Linked DNA regions of Homo sapiens. The protein of the gene in region 1 purifies or fractionates together with the protein of each later gene. This does not show direct contact. Each region holds a gene or a part of one and is shown on either strand. Other genes may lie near its edges.

Region 1 (5,764 bases):
GGGGGTTGGATATGCCTTATTATGCCCTCTCCCCCTTTGAAATTCAGGCACAACTGACCAGCATTAACATTAAAACAAAAATCTGAAGACTGACTAAACAGACTCATTGTAGCAATAAGACACCAAGTTCTATCCTGGCTCTAGTATAGCATCACATGACAGAGGGCCCTGAAAGAAATTAAACCATTTTACCCCAAAATATTAATATACATATTTGACATATTTTGAAATGGCCCTGCAAACCTCACTCTTGTGGGGAAAATCTGCTCTGCAAAGCATCCCCTTCCCTTTCCAAGTCTTTTCCCTGATCCAGGCATCTTTTTAGGTCTGATAAGAGCTCTGATGCCTGCTTCCTGGAGGCTTCATCTGCATGATAAAACCTTGGTCTCCACACCCCTTAACTTAACCCAGACACTCCCTTCTACTGAGTCCAGGTCTGTAGGTACTTACTTAACTCTTTCAACCAATAACCAATCAGGAAGTCTTTGAATCCACCTATGACCTGGAAGCCCACCTCTTCGAGTTGTGCCACCTTTCTGGACCAAACCAATGTACATATCACATGTATTGCTTGATGTCTCATGTCTCCCTAAAATGTATAAAACCAAAATCTAGCTCAATAACCTTGAGCACACGTTCTCAGGATCTCCTGGGGCTGTGTCACAGGCCATTGGTCACTCATATTTGGGTCAGAATAAATCTCTTCAACTATTTCAGAATTTGACTCTTTTCTTCAAGAAACTGGCCCCTCCACCCTTAGCTTCCTCTCACTGTGTATACAGAGCACCCTTCCTGAGCACGTCTGATTGAATTTCTCCAAATAAGCACCTTCAGTAACCCAGCTCCACCTACTCGGCAACATCTGAACAAACTCAGCTCCGCACCCAAAGCCCTTCTAGTTCCATCCTAAGTCAATGCTTCTCAAACTTTAAAGTGCATCAGAATCACCTGGAGGGGCTGTTAAAATGCAGATTCCTGGCCCCAGCTTCCAGAGAGTGCTCCTCAGTTGGTCTGGGGTGGGGACCCCAAACTTGCATTTTTAACAAGTTTCCAGGTGAGGCTGATGCTGGTGGCTTGTGGACCACAGCTTAGGTAGCACTGGCTAAGATACCTTATCCCAGGACCCTTCATGCACTCTCCCTCCATCCAGGGAGCTGCTTACTCTGCCCTCAGCACCCCATGCGCTTGAGCCTTTGCCCAGCCTGGTCCTGGTCCAGGAATTCCCTGCTGCCAAGTCTGATGCAATGGGTCAGATCCTGGAACCTCCTAACTCAGGATAAAGTTGAGAGGTTGTGCTGCTTTTTAAAGGGAAAGCCTTATTGGGATTTGAACCAGAACTGGAAGGACTGTAGTAAAATGCAGATATTTGGGCCCACCCCCAGATACAGGCCTCGCTGTGGGACATGCTGCTATGGTCACTTTCTCCATGTACAGATGAACAAAGGGTGGCCCAGAGATAGGAAGTGACTTTCCCAAGGGCACACAGCACATTAGACGAGAGGCTGAAGAGGAAGTCAAGTTTCAAGTCTCCCTCCTGCGCAGTTCTGTGCTTCTTGTGCTGCCTTTTCCAAGCTTAAGGGGCTCTGCTTTTTCCCCTTCCCTCATTCTACTTTCTTGTGACCCCAGCTGGGCCCCAGCATTTCCAGCTGATGCTGAAATGGAGCCTCAGGGGGCTGTAAAACTTGGAAAAGGAAGAAGAGTAGAGGAAGGGGCAAGAAAATGAGAGGAAGAGAGCCAGGCGTGGTGGCTCATGCCTGTAATCCCAGCACTTTGGGAGGCCAAGGCGGGCGGATCACGAGGTCAGGATATCGAGACCATCCTGGCCAACATGGTGAAACTCAGTCTTTACTAACAATACAAAAATTAGCCGGGCGTGGTGGCACATGCCTGTAGTCCCAGAGAGGATGAGGCAGGAGAATTGCTTGAACCCAGGAGGCGGAGGCTGCAGTGAGCTGAGATCGCGCCACTGCGCTGCAGCCTGGCAAGAGAGCAAGACTCCATCTCAAAAAAAAAAAAAAAAAAAGAAAATGAGGGGAAGAGATAAAACCCTTTGTGGTGAAGGGAGGAAGGAATGGGAAGTCACCCAAGGCTGTCCAGGGAGCTGGGGGTGGGGCTGTTTCTGGAACCTAAGCACACGTACCACCTCCCCTTCCTCTGACCTAATGAGGGCTCGAGTTGGAAACCACAAACCCTCGTTGGCCCCACAGGAGCCAGCCTCTGGCTTCTCTCTGCAATGGCCATGTGCTGCAGACCCGGAGTGGGTAGTTAGTTGGTTAATGCCAGTCTTCCTCCCCTGGACACTGAGTTCTGCTGACAGCCCCCGCCCAGCCAGAGCTCTGCTGTATACCACCGGGAGTGGGGCTGGTGTGGAGCCTGGAGGTCGCCCGCTGCCCTCCTAGGGCTGCTCCAGACAGCATTAAAACGCTGCAGGTCGCAGGTGAGACTAACAGCTGGGAGAGCTGCTCCAGGCATTTAGGACCCTGACTGGGGCAGATGAGTCAGCCCAGTGGGGGCAGGGCTCCTGGAACGAGGATCTACAGTTGGAGTTGCCCCACTGTCATGTCACCTGGAGAAAAACTGGACCCAATTCCTGACAGCTTCATTCTGCAACCACCAGTCTTCCACCCGGTGAGTTGTCACTCTAATGTGGAACCTCCTCGGTCTCTGGGCTCTTCCCTTCCAACTGGGCCCACACTCCTGGGTGGTGGGGTGGAAAGGACCTCAGTCTTTCTGCTTCTCCCAGCACCTGCCCTGGGTTCTGGAAGGCCCTCCTGAGCTTAGTAAAGTGGCTGACTGCTAATTCCCACTTGGGTGTAAATGACTGCTAGGCTTCCAGGGTCACTGCATTTTGAAAGTGGCGAAGCCTGGAGCCACAGTGCTCTGCCCCTACTGTAATGGATGCTAGGAGGATGAGGGTGTGGGGGTAGGATTGTTGGGGGAATGCTGATTACTTAGTAAGGACAGTCTCATCCCCAGCCTGGAAGGAAGGGTCAGGTGGGAATTTCCACTCAGGGATAGGGGTTGGGGGTGTTTCTCTCTTTCTCCTCCAGCTCAGTCAGTGCCCAAGAGGTTTTCTGAAGCCAGGCAATGATTTACAGAAGGCTGAATTCCCAGCAGACACCCCCTACTAATGAGCATTAATTATCACTTTCCCTTACTTGGCCCTCCCCTCCCATGAGAGCTGCATCCACTCAGTTAATTACAGGCCTGGAGGGAGCCTGGGAATGGGAAGTGATCAACTGCTGAACCAACCAGCTGAGCTTGCCAAGCTGGCATCCCAAGCCTCCCTCCCATGCTTCTCAGGTGCCTGAGGAATGGGCTGAAGCAGCTGCCCAGGTTACGGCAGCTCCTTGCTTTAGAGGCTGAGAGCTCGCACCTGGAGGGCCATCCTGGTGGTTTTCAGTTTTTTCTAGGTGGTTTGGGTTCCTAAAGGTTGTTGGGAGTTAGAGAGCAACACAGGAAGGCCAATCCTGTGATACCACTGGTATGTACCTGCCATCCTGCTCACATTCATTCCAAACACATCTATGCAGAGCCCTCACGGCGTCAGGTGAGGCACTGAGCCTACAGGAGGGAAAGAGAAGGCTTCAGTTTTGAGGGGCTTATAAACTAGGGAAAAAAGCCAACCAGTCGCTCTAAGCCAAGGGCCAAGCCAGCCACATGAGCAAAATGCCCTGGGAGCTCAGGGGAAGAAAGGAATAATCCAAGGAACCCAAGTGGATGATGCTTGGAAAGAGTCAGGGTGGAAAGAGACAGGAGGAACAGCCCAGAAAAGGCAGGAAGTTGTAAAACTGTATGATGTATTTTAGGAAGGCCAGGCAACTTCTTTTTTTTTTTTTTTTTTTTTTTTTTTGAGACCAAGTCTTGCTTTTTCGCCCAGGCTGAAGTACAGTGGCATGATCTCAGCTCACTGCAACCTCCTCCATCTCCCAGGCTCAAGCAATTCTCCTGCCTCAGCCTCCTGAGTAGCTGGGATTAGAGGTGCATGCCACCACACCCAGCTAATTTTTGTATTTTTAGTAGAGATAGGGTTTCACCATGTTGGCCAAGCTGGTCTCGAACTCCTGACCTCAAGTTGATCCACCCGCCTCAGCTTCCCAGAGTGCTGAGATTACAGGCATGAGCCACAGAGCCCAGCCCAGGTAACTTCTACATGGGGAAAGGTGAGCCTGGGAAGGCCATTGTTAAGTGCCTCTCCAGGGGTCCATTTCAGAGTTAGCTGTCAGTTCCTAACTTGTCCATTCTTCTTGCCTCCCAGTTCCTAGTCTCCAGCCACTCAACAGTCCTCAGAAAGCCCCAGTACCAGGCTTCTGGGGACCAGGGTGACATCTAGTGGATGGCAAGCCTCCCTGGGGTCACTGCAGCCTGTTGTGTCCTAGGAGCTGGGGAAAGGCAACTGGCTGGTGCTGAATTTGGCAAGGGAGCGGAATTTGACTTCTCTGGTGTAATGCAGCTTTGCCGTGTGACGGTCCAGGAAAGGGGATTAGGTGGAAGAAAATATTTCAGTGAACACTGATTTTTACCTATAAGGAATTTTCTGTTTGGAGAGGAAAAGTTGAGTTTTATTCTGCTCCTTTCCTCCCACTCGCCTGACATAGAGGTCCCTAAGCCCTTTCTCCAAACCTGCATGGATGAGTTTCTTTTCTTGTTCAGGTGGTTCCTTATGTCACGACGATTTTTGGAGGCCTGCATGCAGGCAAGATGGTCATGCTGCAAGGAGTGGTCCCTCTAGATGCACACAGGTAAGGCGGGGGAGGTGGCCCAGGGGGTGCTGGAGCTCAGCCCTAGAGGCATCGAGCTGGAGGGCTCCTCCCTGCCACTGAGATCTCTGTGGGTCTCTGGTCAGAACCGCACTTTGAGAGCCTCACCTCCCAGTAGGTTTCAGGTGGACTTCCAGTGTGGCTGCAGCCTGTGTCCCCGGCCAGATATCGCCTTCCACTTCAACCCTCGCTTCCATACCACCAAGCCCCATGTCATCTGCAACACCCTGCATGGTGGACGCTGGCAAAGGGAGGCCCGGTGGCCCCACCTGGCCCTGCGAAGAGGCTCCAGCTTCCTCATCCTCTTTCTCTTCGGGAATGAGGAAGTGAAGGTGAAGGAAGGGACGGGCATTGGGTGGTCTAGAATTTGTGTCCTTGCGCCCTTCCTTCCCTCAGCCAGACTCCCCACGACACAATGTTGAGTGGCATTGGTAGTGGTCAGGTACCAAGAGGACCAAGGAGCTGCCATGCCCGGTTCCAGGCTGCCCTGGGCCCACATGGCAGCAAGAAAGCTCTACAGTGCCTGGCTCCAAAGAGGGCACTCCTGCCATAGTCATGGCAAGCACTTAGAGAGAACCTACTGTATACCAGGAACTGTTCTAAGCCCTTAAAAGTATCTGCTCATTGAATGCTCACAATAACCCCATTAGGTAGGTACCTTCATTATCCCCATCTTACAGCCACAGTGGCAGGGGAGAGGGACAGAGAACTTGATCTCAAGGTTTAGACCCCTAATGTGAGCTCCTGCCAGAAACATGATGGGATCTTCAGACATCTCCAGGAGACAGGGCAGCTGGCGGGAGGGTAGCCTCTTGAGCCTCAGTTTCCTCACGTAAATGGAGCAAAGATGACTCTTTGGGCTGCTGAGAAAGCACAATGAGGGGCCTCTGTTGGGGTAGAGGGAGCGTTGAAGGTGCCTTAGTCTCCAGGCCAGCTCTGCAACCTTTGGAAGATTACTTAAGCCGCCCAAGGCTCTGTAAAATGTACCTACCTCATAGAGATGA
Region 2 (4,316 bases), on another chromosome or scaffold:
TTACTTTTTTCATTTATATGTTTAGTTTGCCAGTAGGGAAAGAATGGATGAAATCATGTCAACTAAAGACCTGCAGATAAGCAGAGATTGGAGCTTGGCTAAAATAGGGATTCTTTGCTGAAGCCACAAGTTTCCCTACAACCTGAGAGGAAGAGCAGCCACACTTCCTGAGTTCCATCTGAAGAGGCACAAGATGCACTAGTGCATTACTAGGGCAATGACCTCAACAGCCCTGTTAGGCTCACCTTAAAACAAACACTGTTTTGGAGTGCAGGCTTTGCATTAGACACTCAGTAATTAAGGACACAGTTTCCGCTTTCCCAGGTTGTTTATCTCTCAGATATCCTATTTCTCAATCTCTACATGTTTCTTTCTGGCAATTGAGTCATGCTTTAGCATGAAAATATGTGTTGAAATAGGTTCAAAATACCAAAATTTACCCACAGGCTAAGAATAAAATGTGGAAGAAAGGTAATTCTTGGGGAAAAACCTGGCAGAATATACACTGCTTTTCAGTATTCCTTGAAGAGCTACCTGCTTGGGAAGCATAATGGAAGCTGCGAGGCGCTTTTCAAGAAAGTTGAGTATTCTGAGATTTGATGAGGAACACATGACTATGTTATTAAACCATCCCAACTAAATATTAAGATCAGGCTGTAAATTGCAGGTAGCTGACAATGACTGAGTGACAACATGGAAAAGCTGAAACCAAAATTCTGTTTTCTTGCCATCTCTTCAGTTTTCTTGATTATCCCCTAGACTAATGACTAAAATACCATAAACCATGCTTTTGTTCTGCTATATATGGCTAATAACAGCAGTGTGGATTTAAATTATAAAATGCACTATGTTCAGGGAACATGACATTTGTTTGAACTATTCTGGGGTTCAGGGCCACAGCTTATATTTGGAAATATTTACTAATATAAGGACAGTGAGACAGTATTCTAATGTGCCCTGTCGACCTTTTAAGACTTTGCATAAAGTAGGATGCATACGAGTGCTACGGTTGGAATAAACCAGGTTTGAAGGTGGTGAAATTGCTGATTCAGGCTAGTTTCTAGGAAGATGGGGTTTGGATATACCCAGTGAAAGTAACAGCTCTCTGGAGTTGTAAAATTGGAGACTATATTTGTATATTCATGAACTAGAACAAATTGGCCTAAATGTCATATTGGTTCAAAGACTTTTAGGTACCACTAAATTAGGAAAAAAGATTACTCCATGTAGTAAAAGAATGCTAACTATACTTCAACACTGGGATCCAGGGCTGAAGTCCTAGCTGATTCTATTATGCTACCTTTCCATACTTTATATTTTTAGATACTTCCAGGGGAAGACAGATAGTTGAGCTTTGACAGGCTTCACTACATTTGGTACTATCAAAATCTCATCATGACTTCCAAAAAGTTCTTGTTCTTTACCAATTAAATTTCTGCATACTTTCTACTAAGAGATTTTAACACTGATAAATATTATGGAAGCTTTCAGCAACCACTCAGAATATTTGATCCACTACTGAGAAACACTATAGACCATCACTCATCTTTCTCTTTCTCGGGTGGCAAGTAATCAGCAACTTATTAGCAGTCACAAACTTCCAGTGTACACTTTTGCTGTCTCCTCTGTCCTGGCATCAAGAGCGAAACACATAAAGTCAGCAGGTTTTTGTGCATTGAACTAATCAGTAATCTTGAGGGCCTTTTACAACTTTGTAGTAGTAAATCAACCAGCACCCATAAAGACAGCAGCAGGGACTTTGCTGATGAATTGTTCTGAAGACTCAGGCTCATGCACTATAGGTGGCTCATGTAGTCAATGGCAGAAAAATTTATCTTTGGTTCAATTTAAAATAGAGAATAAAACAGTCTTTTCATCTACATGCAGTTGTAAGTCTTCTAAGAAAAGATAATTATTCTTCTTAGGAAAAACCATTAAGTAAACCATATGGAGAAATAATATAATAGGACATTTATAAAAATACACACCATTTTATAAGCCTTTCAGACCTATTAAATAACTATAATATCCATAATGTACAGATGTCTTTAAATACTACTCAAGTAAAAATTATTTCTGTAAGCAATATTCAATTTAGATGAATTATAGGGAATTTTTATTTTACCAAGGAAGATTTAAAAGGACCCAACTTATTAATTTTATAAATATCTTCAAGATATAATACATACTTAAAAGTTACATTAATGTTAAAGGGGCATTAAAAACAAATTAGCTAACCTAAACTGCTTCAAGACAACTAGAAAAGAAAAAAAAGTAAATGTTCAGTGATTCTTTGCTTTCCTTAAAGCCTTGATTTAAATCCTAGGCCTTGGGTCAGCGCTGCTGACACCAGCCAAAATCAGCTTAGTTATCTCAAAACAGTTGGAGAATCAAGAGGCCTTCCGTGTGAATACTTGCAATTCAATGTATTGGTATGTTGAAAAGTAAAATGCTTGTTAATCTTCACATTAGACACAAGAATGGTCACTTCCACATAATAATTTAAGTAATTATCAAAACTAATGAGAAAAATGTGTTATCTTCAATATTGAAAGCAGGTATGACTAGTATATATTTCCAGAGCACAATGTCTTAGAAAAAAAAAGAAAAAAGTGTTTAAAGTTGAATATCTTGGGAGCACTTTAAGTCACAAGATTCTGTGAGCATTTCCTCAGAATCTGTAGGCCTTCTTTACATATTTTTTAAAAACTCAATAAAACATGTTCACTGAAATTTTGTGTGTTTAGTATTATTTTTTGCTCATTGGGAAGAAAAAGAGAAAGGGAGGAAAAAAGGAAGGAAGGAGGCAGGAAGGGAAGGAAGGAAATGAACTCAAAAGGTGGGAGGGAAGAAAGGACAGAAAAAGGGAAAGGAAAAGAGAGATTAAGGAAAGAGGAGGGGAAGGGCAGATGGGGCAGGGGAGGGAAAAATGAAATGCATAAGGAAAAGGAAACTGAAAGGAAATGTATATGGTGTTATCTAGTCCTTCACCAAGTTAAAGGCAAATGGAGGGAAAAAAGTTAAGAAAGAATATACATGACTAAAATAATCAAAGAATGATACTAGTTTCTGCTTTTGGAGAGACCAAGATATATAAATACAAGAATTTATTATATTCACCACATTGGAACAATTACAAAGACATAAAAATAAAATGACTCTGTGAGTGCAGAAGGGATGCAATGAGGGACACAGGAGTGAACCATTAGATCATGGCAATGGTGAAGCAAGCCATTCTGCTATTGATGGAGCCTTGAGAATAGCATCCACATTCTGTCACAGCAGACAGTCGGGCTTTAGGAGTTTTAGGAAAAGTTACAACAATTTTCATGTTTCCTGGGGAATTAATGCAAAGCAGAGTCCGACGTAGTTAATATGGCGACAGATTGCATTTCCCAAATACCAGCACGATAATATGGTTCACTAATCACCACAAAATACTGGGTTTTTCATAATGATAATTATCTAACTCAAATAACTAGTCTTTATTATGAGATTGAGACCTTCTTGAGTTTTGGTTTAATGATGGTAACAGTAAAATATTTTAATTCGTTTGTTTCCAAGCAAAAGAAATGTGGATGATATTCTGTGGCTTGTATATATCTTTAAACCTCCTTACTTGGTGAGATAAAAAGTAGGCAACCGTTTGTGCATCTCCATATTATTTTTAAGTTTTATGGATCCTAAAATCCCATGTCCTGGAGCTATGGATATAGAACATCAACCCACACTCTCAGAGGCTGGGACCACAATAACTTAGAAACGTGGAGGACTATTATAAGAGCTATGAATTTAGAGAGATAAATAAAGAAATTCAGGCAACTGATATAATTCACTAATAATGTGGTAGGCTGGCCTTTTGAACTAAAACATGTGCTTTAAATTGAGGAATAGAAGCAGGAAGGAAGTGGACTTGGGGGATACAAGACCATTTTCAAGGCTGCCTCTTGTGGCTCTGGAAAGCATATGACTTTCTTTCAGCTACATTATGTTTATTATTGTAAAAATAATTTTAAAATTACAGGATTGAGAAATCTAAGAACATAATGCTGAAGTTATTAACTATTCCTCAAGTTATTAATACTGACCTTTGAAATTAAATGTTCCCCTTTGTTCCTTTTCCTCTCGAAAGAAACAAGAATAACTTCCCATTTGTTTGCTATTAATGATGGTGAACCTAAAGATAATTCAAGTTATTAATATAGGCTTAGTTCTCAAAACCTTAATGAAAATGAAAAGACTTAGCCATTAATAAAAATTTAAAAAGAGAAATAATTCTGTAAATATGCAAATTAGAATATTAGCATAACATTCAA
Region 3 (4,316 bases), on another chromosome or scaffold:
TAACTGGGATTAAAGACACCCACCATCATGCCTGGCTAATTTTTGTAGGCACGGGGTTTCACCATGTTGGCCAGGCTTGTCTCAAACTCCTGACCTCAGGTTATCTGCCTGACTCAGCCTCCCAAAGTGCTGGGATTACAGGCGTGAGCCACTGCGCCCAGTGTCTTCATCATCATTAATAACAATACTGATGAGGTGGGAGGTTCGGTTAAGGTGCTTGGCTTTGCACTCAAGGAAGCACACACCTGAGTAACAAAAGCTGTTTAGGAAATGAGCCACTGTGTTCTCAGGAGCTAGGTGCCTGTTCCTGCCGTCTCTGATCAGTCGTGATGGAACCTGCAGATCAGACCAGGGCCCTACCTGTGGTTCCTTCTGCACCCCTGCCCTTCAGATCTGTGATGGGCAGGACCAAAGAGCAGGCCGAAGAGCTGGAACCACGAGCACAAGGACCATCTCGGCCCACTGCCCTGTGATAAAATGTGGCCCAGTGAACATCTCCGCCTCTGTCCAGTCAGATGCAGGCTCTTCCATCCTTGAAAAGGACCTAGTGAGAGTAAAGGGCAGGGGGCAGGAAGCATTTCATGTGTGTGGCGGTGGGGAGAAGAGTCGTGCGCACACAAATTCTGCTGCCTGTTGAGTGAGGCCTCTCCCTCTGCCTTCCACTGTAGCTTATGCTCTGTCTTCCTAGGCCAGTGAAGCAGACAGTAGTGCTTGCCCTCAAAAGCTTCTGAGTGGATTGGAACAGGATGTTAGTGATGTTCTTTACAAGGCCTCACTGGCCCCCAAGTTCACTTTCTGTTCCATTCATGTTGTCAAGTGTAGCTCCCAGAAGTAATTAACGCACTAAGCCTAAATGATGCAATGAAAGGTGCCTACACTTATACAGTGACACTACCATCCTCACCTACAATATTAAGTTCCCAGAGAAAAAAATTCGATCCCATAATATAAATTCTGTACTTACAAATTAAAATCTCGAAGGAATTAAAAATTTTTAATTATCTCCCTCTGCTTTTTTTTTTTTTTTTTTTTTTTTTTTGAGATGGAGTCTCACTCTGTCCACCAGACTGGAGTGCAGTGGCACAATCTCAGCTCGCTGCAACCTCCACCTCCAGGGTTCAAGTGATTCTCCCACCTCAGCCTCCCGAGTAGCTGGGATTACAGGCATGCACTACCATGCCCAGCTAATTTCCATAGTAGAGACAGGGTTTCGTCATGTTGGCCATGCTGGTCTCAAACTCCTGACCCCAAGTGATCCGCCCGCCTTAGCCTCCCAGAGTGCTAAGATTACAGGCATGAGCCATTGCGCCTGGCCTCCTTCTGCTCTATTTTAATCAAAAGGGTCCACCAGGATGCCTGGGTTCCCTCAGCAGCTGCAGCTTGGACCATCATCAGCCTGGGCAGACAGAGCAGTGCCAGGAACTCCCATGCTGGGTCAACCCTAGGCCTAGCCCAACCCTAGGCCTCATCCTGCTTCTCTAAAGCATAGTGAAACCTGATAGCATTAGTCTTCACAAAGCTGTGTGTCCCCATCACCATGTCCGCCTTAGACCTCATAAGAGACATAAGACATAAGAGACTTCATGCTATCTGGTGGAAAGACAAAGTAGGAGAAAAGACAGAAAACCTTCCCTGTTTCACTTCTTTAAGATGCTATTATCTAGAGGCCGTAACGTGAACACACAAATCTGAGATGAAACTCCAGTCCCCAGCTTTTCTTCTACTGGTCTTGAATCCCCATTCCCCATCTTCTGTCCCTCACCCACTGATGACTTTAACACCTGGCTTACTGCTCCTTTTGAGCCCCTGTTCCTGACTCTGCTTTTGGAGGCATCAGTCACCATGTGGATGATCCATCTATCCTCAATCTTTCTATTCCTCAGCTTCCTCAGCCACCTGATCCCATGGTCAAGTCACCATCTGCCCTGTATCTGCACTGCCCTTGGAATCTCAACAAGGCATCCGCCCTGTTTACTGCCTCCTTCCTCCCACCTCAGTATTCTCTTTTATTCCAGTCATTTTTGTCTTCATCAAGTCCTTAGAGTTATTGATGCCTCCACTTTCTCAACATCAGTCACACCGAACATGTCCTCACCTTCCTCCTTACTCTGTGTGTTTTTGAGTTCTGTTTTTGAGCGTTTGAGTTTTCTGATTTGAGTTTTTGTGGTATGTCATTATTACCTTTCCTTATTCCCTCATGCTTTCTTACTTTCATAGCAAACTCTCTAGTAAAACCCAGTTATATGCCTCTATCTGATATAGCAAACATCACTGGGCAAAAACACAAAACAGTGCCAAATGCTCTCACACTGAACTCATGACCACAAATCTCATAGAGGTAATTGGTGCCACCTAGCAATGCTATTGCTCTTTCTTTTCTTCCTGAAACCTCCAGCATCTGCTCTTGCCTGTCCCATCATACTCACACCTTAGCTTGTGACCTGGCCTCATTCTTCTCCAAGAAATCAGACAAGAACACTGTCATCCTCCCACCCCCAAACAACCAGCCTCTTCAAATCTGTACCAACTCTATTCTCTCTTGTTACAGTGGAAAAGGGTTTCTGCATCTCTCAATCCACCTGTCCACTGTGCTCTTGGCCCCATTCCGTCCTGCCTGCTCAGGGATGTTGCTGCTATAACCATCTTCTCTCCCACCTCCATCAGCAGTTCCCCTCTTTAACCACTACTCTCATCAGCCTATACATGTTACATTTCCTATCTTTTAAAAACAAAAAATCTGCTAATCTCACTTTCCCTTCCACCTACTATCCTATTTCTCTGCACCCCTTCCCAGCAAAACTCCTTTAAAGAGTTGGCTTTCGGCCGGGCGCGGTGGCTCACGCCTGTAATCCCAGCACTTTGGGAGGCCAAGGTGGGCGGATCACAAAGTCAGGAGATCGAGACCAGCCTGGCCAACATGGCAAAACCCCATCTCTACTAAAAATACAAAAATTAGCTGGGCGCGATGGTGCATGCCTGTGATCCCAGCTACTCGGGAGGCTGAGGCAGGAGAATCGTTTGAACCAGGGAGCTGAAGGTTGCAATGAGCCAAGATCGCGCCACTGCATTCCAGCCTGGTGGCAGAGTGAGACTCCATCTCAAAAAAAAAAAAAAAAGAGTTGGCTTTCTCCCTGCAAGTTCTCTGTTCGCTCTGTTCCTTCCAGGCTTGGCCCCACTGGGACTGCTTTAGTCAAGATCACCAGTGACTGTCCTCTTGCCAAATCCAAAGGTCATTTCTCTTTTCTGATTTTTTTTTTTTTGTCCTTACAGCAGCATTTGAAAGAGTCAGTACCTCCCTCCTCTTCCTCAGAACACTTACTTCCGTAGCATCACCCCACTCACTAACCTGGCAGCTCCTTTGTTATTTCTTTGTGACCTCCTCCTCTAAAACATTGGAGTATACTAGACTCGGGCGCTAGCCCACTCTGTTTTCTTTTGACACACTAGCCCTTCAGGATCTCAGCCAGTCCTATGGCTTTAAGTACAACCCATATGCCAGGGATCCTCAATCTGCGTCTCTAGGCCAGTCACCTGTCCCCCTTCCCAATGTGGGCTCCTGATTTCCTCCTTCCCCCGACACCAGTCCACCCCACTCTTAGCCATCTAAATAAATAGTACCACCTTCTGCCCAGTTGCTCATGTCTAAAATCCGGGAGTTACCTTCCTTCCTCCCCTCTCCTCACCCCTCACATCCAGTCTGCCACTGAGTCCTGATACAGGCAGAGCCTCCCCACTTTTCTCCAGCGTAACTGCTGTCATCTGAACAAGCCCTCGTCTCTCACTGCTTGCCCGTGGGACTGTGGGCATGACTCATATGCGCAGCCTCGTCTGCAGTGGCCTGGCAACTGGTCCTCCTGCTCTCATCCTAACCCACTTTTAGTTTTTCAAATGGCAGCTGCTGGTCCTTTTGAAAATATAAATCATTGTCACTCCTTGTCTTACAAATCCTGTTTGAGGCCAGGTGCGGCAGCTCACGCCTGTAATCCCAGCACTTTGGGAGGCCGAGGCGGGTGGATCACCTGAGGTCGGGAGTTCGAGACCAGCCTGACCAACATGGAGAAACCCCGTCTCTACTAAAAATACAAAATTAGCGGGCATGGTGATGCATGCCTGTAATCTCAGCTACTGGGGAGGCTGAGGCAGGAGAATCACTTGAACCCGGGAGCCGGAGGTTGCAGTGAGCCAAGATCGCGCCATTGCACTCCAGCGTGGGCAATAAGAGTGAAGCTCCATCTCAAAAAAAAAAAAAAAAAAAATCCTCTTTGGTCTTCCAGAGATCTTGAGAGAAAATCCGCCCATGTATACAAAATTTAGAG
Region 4 (4,789 bases), on another chromosome or scaffold:
TTTTTTTTTTTTTTGAGATGGAGTCTCACTCTGTCGCTTGGGCCGGAGTGCAGTGGCGCGATCTTGGCTCACTGCAACCTCCGCCTTCCAGGTTCAAGCAATTCTCTTGCCTCAGCCTCCCGAGTAGCTGGGATTACAGGAACCCGCCACCACGCCCAGCTAATTTTTTTTGTATTTTTAGTAGAGACGGGGTTTCGCCACGTTGGCCAGGCTGGTCTCGAACTACTGACCTCATGATTCACTCACCTTGGCCTCCCAAAGTGCTGGGATTACAGGCATGAACCACTGCACCCGGCCCAACTCATACCTTTTTTTTTTTTTTTTTTTTGGCAACCGTGTGCATTGGTACTGTCTGTCGGTGCAGTTCATCTATATGTTGTTGTGTGTGTGTGTTGCTTGGGTGTTTGTCTCCTTTGTAATGGTCGTGGGTGACAAGTGTGTCAGAGTACTTGTCCCTCCTATATGTGTATCTATGCGCACGTATCTTTCTTTGTGTGTCTGCTGCTGTATTTGTGTCTCTTCTTAGCGAGTGGCTGCAGGTATGTGTGCCCTCGGGGTGTTTCTTCTGGTGCCATGGTATGAGTACTATCTGGTTCTCTTGTTTTTTCCTTGTGTAGCTTTCAGTGTGGTTTCTGGATTTTTTCTTTGCAACGATAGTAAGCGTACTCTGCATTCCTGTGCTTTGTGTTTGTGTGCAGGTATATGCTTTCCCTATATGTTTCTTTTCTGACTTGATTTGTGACTAGCTGTGTGTGTACACGGCTGTGTGCAGCCATTTGCTGAAATGCAGTTGTGTGTGTGTGTGTGTGTGAGAGAGAGAGAGAGAGGAGAGAGAGAGAGAAGGAGACTATGGCTTTTCTGTTTGTACAAAAATCATGTCAGCCTATGAGTGCCTCTCTCTGTGACTGGAGCTGTATGTGGTTACATGTGGTCACAAGTGCACATTCAAGTTCACATACACAGAGATATCATTTTAGGGCTTGAACCTGGAAGTTTGCCTCCAGGGTCATCTGAACCTGGATTCAGGTTCAGATCCAGGGCCATCTGAACCTGGATCGTGTGTGTGGGAAAGACCCAGGACCCACACACAATGTCATCAGCTGTGTGTAATTGTGTGCTCTGTGTGTGGCTGTGAATCTGTGTGTGTGATTTGCCTGTTGATTGTCTTTGGCATGGCTGTGGGTCCACGGGCGGTGAGGTTCAGGAGTCTCGAGTGTCTGGAAATCGGCACAAGCCTATCCCTGTGTTAGTCTGTGCTCTCTGTGAGCGGCTCTGAGCCTGTCGGTATTGATAGCTGTAAGACTATCGTCACTCTGTGTGGCCACGTGTGTGACTGTCCCATGAGCCATTGCTCTTAACGTGCAGTGGTGAGTCTGTGTGTGTTCATGTCTGTCAGTCTTTATTCTCTTGTGTGGCTGTGAGTCTTTGTGCACCTCTGTGAGTGATGGCGAGTTGGCCCCCGTATCTGAGCCCCTTGATGGGGCTGTGATGGGTCCTGTTGTGTAGCTGCGATTCCTGAGTGTGCAGGAGTCTCTCTCCCGCTGTGGGGAAGTAAACGCCCCATCCCTTGTCCTCCTCCAACTGTGGGTGGGGTGAGGGCATCTAGGCCAGCTTTGAAGCCCCAGCCAGCTCCTGGCCTTTCCGGGAATTCTGTGTTCCCTGTCGGGGGTGGGCAGGCGGGCGAGGGGCCCAGACAGAGGCCTCTTGTCCACCTGGGCTTCAAGCAGCCCAGTCGAGGTGGTCCCAGACCCCAAGTCCACCCTGCCTGACATCCTGTAGCGGACACGTGGCTTGCCTGGGACAGGCATGCCTGTCATATGCCTGGAGGGGAGTGAACAGACGGACTCCCATAGAAGACAGACGGACAGACAGATAGTGGGACTTCTCAGGGCTTGGACAAGCCCCACCCCACGCTTGGGGTGGGGTCCAGGACTACAGTGCCCGCCCAGTTTGCGGACAGTGTGAGTTCACAGTCCACATTCCCCACCCAGCCACAAATGCCCTCCCTGCCTCCCTCTGGGGGCCCCCAAGATCTAGGGTCCTCTCGTGCCTAGGCTGTCTGCCTGAGGTCTGCCTGGAATAGCCTGGCTACTACCCCTGCACCTGTTCCCCTGCTGTCCCCAGGCCTCTCTGCCTGAATCTGCCTCTCTCTGCCTCTTTTCTCCTGTCCCTCCAGGAGTCTCTCTGCCTCAACCACTCTCTCTGCCCCTTCATCTCTCTGAGCTGGTGTGTCTGGTCCTACCCTCTGTTTGGGGAGCTGTCTGGCTCTGTCCCCCACCTCTTGGCCAGCCTGTGTCTCCTGTCTATGACTGAGCCCAATTGCCTGTTGCCTTTCTGCAGGTGTTTCCACGAGCCTATCCCTACCCACCTGTTTGTTTCTGAGTCTGCCTGTGTGTCCCTTTCTCCCTGTCTCTGCCTGTCTTCCAAGCTCCCCTAGCATCCCCTCCTCCCGCCCATCTGTCTTTCTGTCCCTTCTGTGGTCTGTCTGTTCCTGTGCTGTTTCTCATGCCTGCTTTCTTTGTAACTTCAGTTCTCCTACTCTCTCTCTGTCTCCTCTCTGCACCTTTTTCTGCCATCCATCCCATCCTGCTGTCCGTCTGCTCTGTGAGTCCATCCCCTCTGTCTGCCTGTCACTCTCTCTAGCTGTGGGTCTACACCCTCAATCTTTCAGGCCATTTCCCCCACCATCAACACACAAACAAACCGCTGTCTCCCTCCAAGTGGGTCCAGATAGGGGGCGCCCCTTCTCCACCTCTTCCCCCGCCCAGGGCCAGAAGGAGGGAAACGAAATTAAAATTAACATTTCTTCTCAGGAAAAAAAAAAAAGTACCGCTCCAGAGCAGGAGCCTAGGCAGCCGAGAGGGTGCCCGAACCTGAGTCTGAGTTGCGGCCACTTCAGGAGCTGAGAGGAGCAGGTAGGTGAGGAGGGAGCGTGGGCTGCGGGGATGGTGTTCCTGGGGGCCTGAGATATGAGTAGGGGTCCTGGGAGGGGGCTCGGGGTTCCTTGGAGACATTTTAGCACTAGTGGGGAATGGAATGGCGTGTATGGGGAGGTCCTTTTTGTACCCTGATCCCAGGAAGTGAATTCAGGTGTGGGTGGGAGGCTCCGGAGGGTGCTGGTGGTGGGGGATGGGACTCCTTGAGACCCTCCCTGTCCCAGGAACGGGATTCAGGACTTGGGAAAAGGATTTCCTGAGCCAGTTTGAGCTCTAATGGGGACCTTGAATGGGGGTTTCTGAGATACCTCCTTCCCAAGGAGTAAGCGCGGGAGGGAGCTGGGGTTTCTTCAGAGACGCTGTACCTACAAGACAGGGGCTCCAGGCTCGGGTGGGGATTGCAGAGACACCCCCACCCCAGGAAACTCGGTAGGCCACGGGAGGGGGTCTTTGATGAAGGTCTCAGAAATAGCTCTTCCTCCGGAGGGAAATGAGGGCTCGGGCCAGGTTCCTGAGACACCCCACACCCCACACCTAGGAAGTTTCTCAAGTCTGGCAGTGTCTCCAAATTGACTTCTGCCAGAAGATGAGTGTTTAAGACTTGCTAGGGGCCCTGGAAAAGACCTCTAGGCCCTAGAATTGGGGTCAAATGGGAGTCCCTGGGTCATTTCTGTCCCTGGGAAGGGGCTCGGTTCGGGCACTTGTCTTTGGCTTCTAGTGAGGATATTCAGAGTCGTGGCAGAGAGCAGTTTGCAGCGTCTGGGGCAGGGGTCTCCGAGTCTGTCCCCAACCCTCAGCTCACTCAACAGGTTGCATTAGCTCTGGTCTCGGGCTTGGGGGCCCAGGCGGGAAGGAGGGGGGTGAGGGCATTAGGAGGGGTGGGGCAGCCAGGCCGACACGTGTCCCTGCAAGGAGTGAGCCGCCTGGCCACGCGGTGAGGGTGGAGGGAAGGAGAGGGGGTGGCGCGGGGGACCGGGGAATGAAAGACACAGATGGCAAGAGAGACAGCGTGAGTCTGGGGTCTGGGAGGAGAGGCTATCCCTTCTCCACGTGGTCGGCTCATCTGCGCTGGGGTCCGGCTCTCTCTGTAGCTTTCTGTCTCTCTCTTCCCCACTATTTCTCTCTCACTGGCTCTCTCTGTGTCTCTCTGAGTAACTAACTGTTGGCTTCTCTCCTTCTCTGATTTTTGTTCTTCTCTCTCTCTCATCTCTTTCTCTGTCAGTCTGCCTCCATTTCTATCCCTGTCTGTTCCTGCTCCCCTGCCTTGTCTCTTTCTCCGTCTTTCCATCGGTCTCTATGGGACTCCCCTCCCCCCTTCTTCAGCTCCCCTCACTTTGAAGCATGCTCGTTCCATCTCTGATCCCCCCACCCCATTTCTTTGCCCACAGGATGGAACTGCAGGATCCAAAGATGAATGGAGCCCTCCCTTCGGATGCTGTGGGGTGAGTCAGGGGTCCAAGGAGGTGGGCTCAGGGATCAGGGGTCAGGATTTCCCTCTTATCGGCCCCTATTTCCCTGCCCTATCCAGCTACAGGCAAGAACGTGAGGGCTTCCTGCCCAGTCGTGGTCCTGCTCCTGGGAGCAAGCCGGTCCAGTTCATGGATGTGAGTGGCCCCACAGGATCTGTCCTGGTGGCACCTTCCCCAGCTAATCTCCTCCCGCACTGCTCCCTCTTCCCCACTCCTCCTCCTCCCTGCTGTTCCCCTGCCCAGCTATCTCCCCAGCACAGCTACACACTACTTGGTCGCTCCCCTCTCCAGATACTCCTCTTCCCCAGATATGCCCTTTCCAGCTCTCTCCCTGGCCTTGTTTCTCCCCACCCGCTCTTCGGCCCAGTGACTGCCCTCCCTGGC

Evidence for each region.
Region 2: the proteins of LGALS12 (region 1) and EMB purify together in Homo sapiens (affinity purification with mass spectrometry; 3 studies listed by BioGRID and IntAct, with this or other methods). This does not show direct contact.
Region 3: the proteins of LGALS12 (region 1) and PTPRA purify together in Homo sapiens (affinity purification with mass spectrometry; one large-scale study listed by BioGRID and IntAct). This does not show direct contact.
Region 4: the proteins of LGALS12 (region 1) and SLC38A5 purify together in Homo sapiens (affinity purification with mass spectrometry; one large-scale study listed by BioGRID and IntAct). This does not show direct contact.

The regions. Positions count from the first base shown.
Region 1 is NC_000011.10:63,503,900-63,509,663, forward strand, and holds the start of LGALS12 (galectin-12), read left to right. Parts: upstream 1-2,184; 5' UTR 2,185-2,493; coding exon of another isoform or gene 2,494-2,559; coding exon 2,560-2,628; intron 2,629-4,087; exon of another isoform or gene 4,088-4,653; coding exon 4,654-4,742; intron 4,743-4,875; coding exon of another isoform or gene 4,876-4,878; coding exon 4,879-5,092; intron 5,093-5,764. UniProt on the Homo sapiens protein: Binds lactose. May participate in the apoptosis of adipocytes.
Region 2 is NC_000005.10:50,406,789-50,411,104, forward strand, and holds part of EMB (embigin precursor), read right to left. Parts: intron 4,178-4,316; coding exon 4,089-4,177; intron 1-4,088. UniProt on the Homo sapiens protein: Plays a role in the outgrowth of motoneurons and in the formation of neuromuscular junctions.
Region 3 is NC_000020.11:3,029,665-3,033,980, forward strand, and holds part of PTPRA (receptor-type tyrosine-protein phosphatase alpha isoform 1 precursor), read left to right. Parts: intron 1-4,316. UniProt on the Homo sapiens protein: Tyrosine protein phosphatase which is involved in integrin-mediated focal adhesion formation.
Region 4 is NC_000023.11:48,467,461-48,472,249, reverse strand, and holds the start of SLC38A5 (sodium-coupled neutral amino acid transporter 5), read left to right. Parts: upstream 1-1,989; 5' UTR 1,990-2,068; intron 2,069-2,813; 5' UTR 2,814-2,915; intron 2,916-3,020; exon of another isoform or gene 3,021-3,225; coding exon of another isoform or gene 3,226-3,365; intron 3,366-3,833; exon of another isoform or gene 3,834-3,928; coding exon of another isoform or gene 3,929-3,945; exon of another isoform or gene 3,946-4,009; intron 4,010-4,324; coding exon of another isoform or gene 4,325-4,325; coding exon 4,326-4,378; intron 4,379-4,464; coding exon 4,465-4,540; intron 4,541-4,789. UniProt on the Homo sapiens protein: Symporter that cotransports neutral amino acids and sodium ions, coupled to an H(+) antiporter activity. Releases L-glutamine and glycine from astroglial cells and may participate in the glutamate/GABA-L-glutamine cycle and the NMDA receptors activation.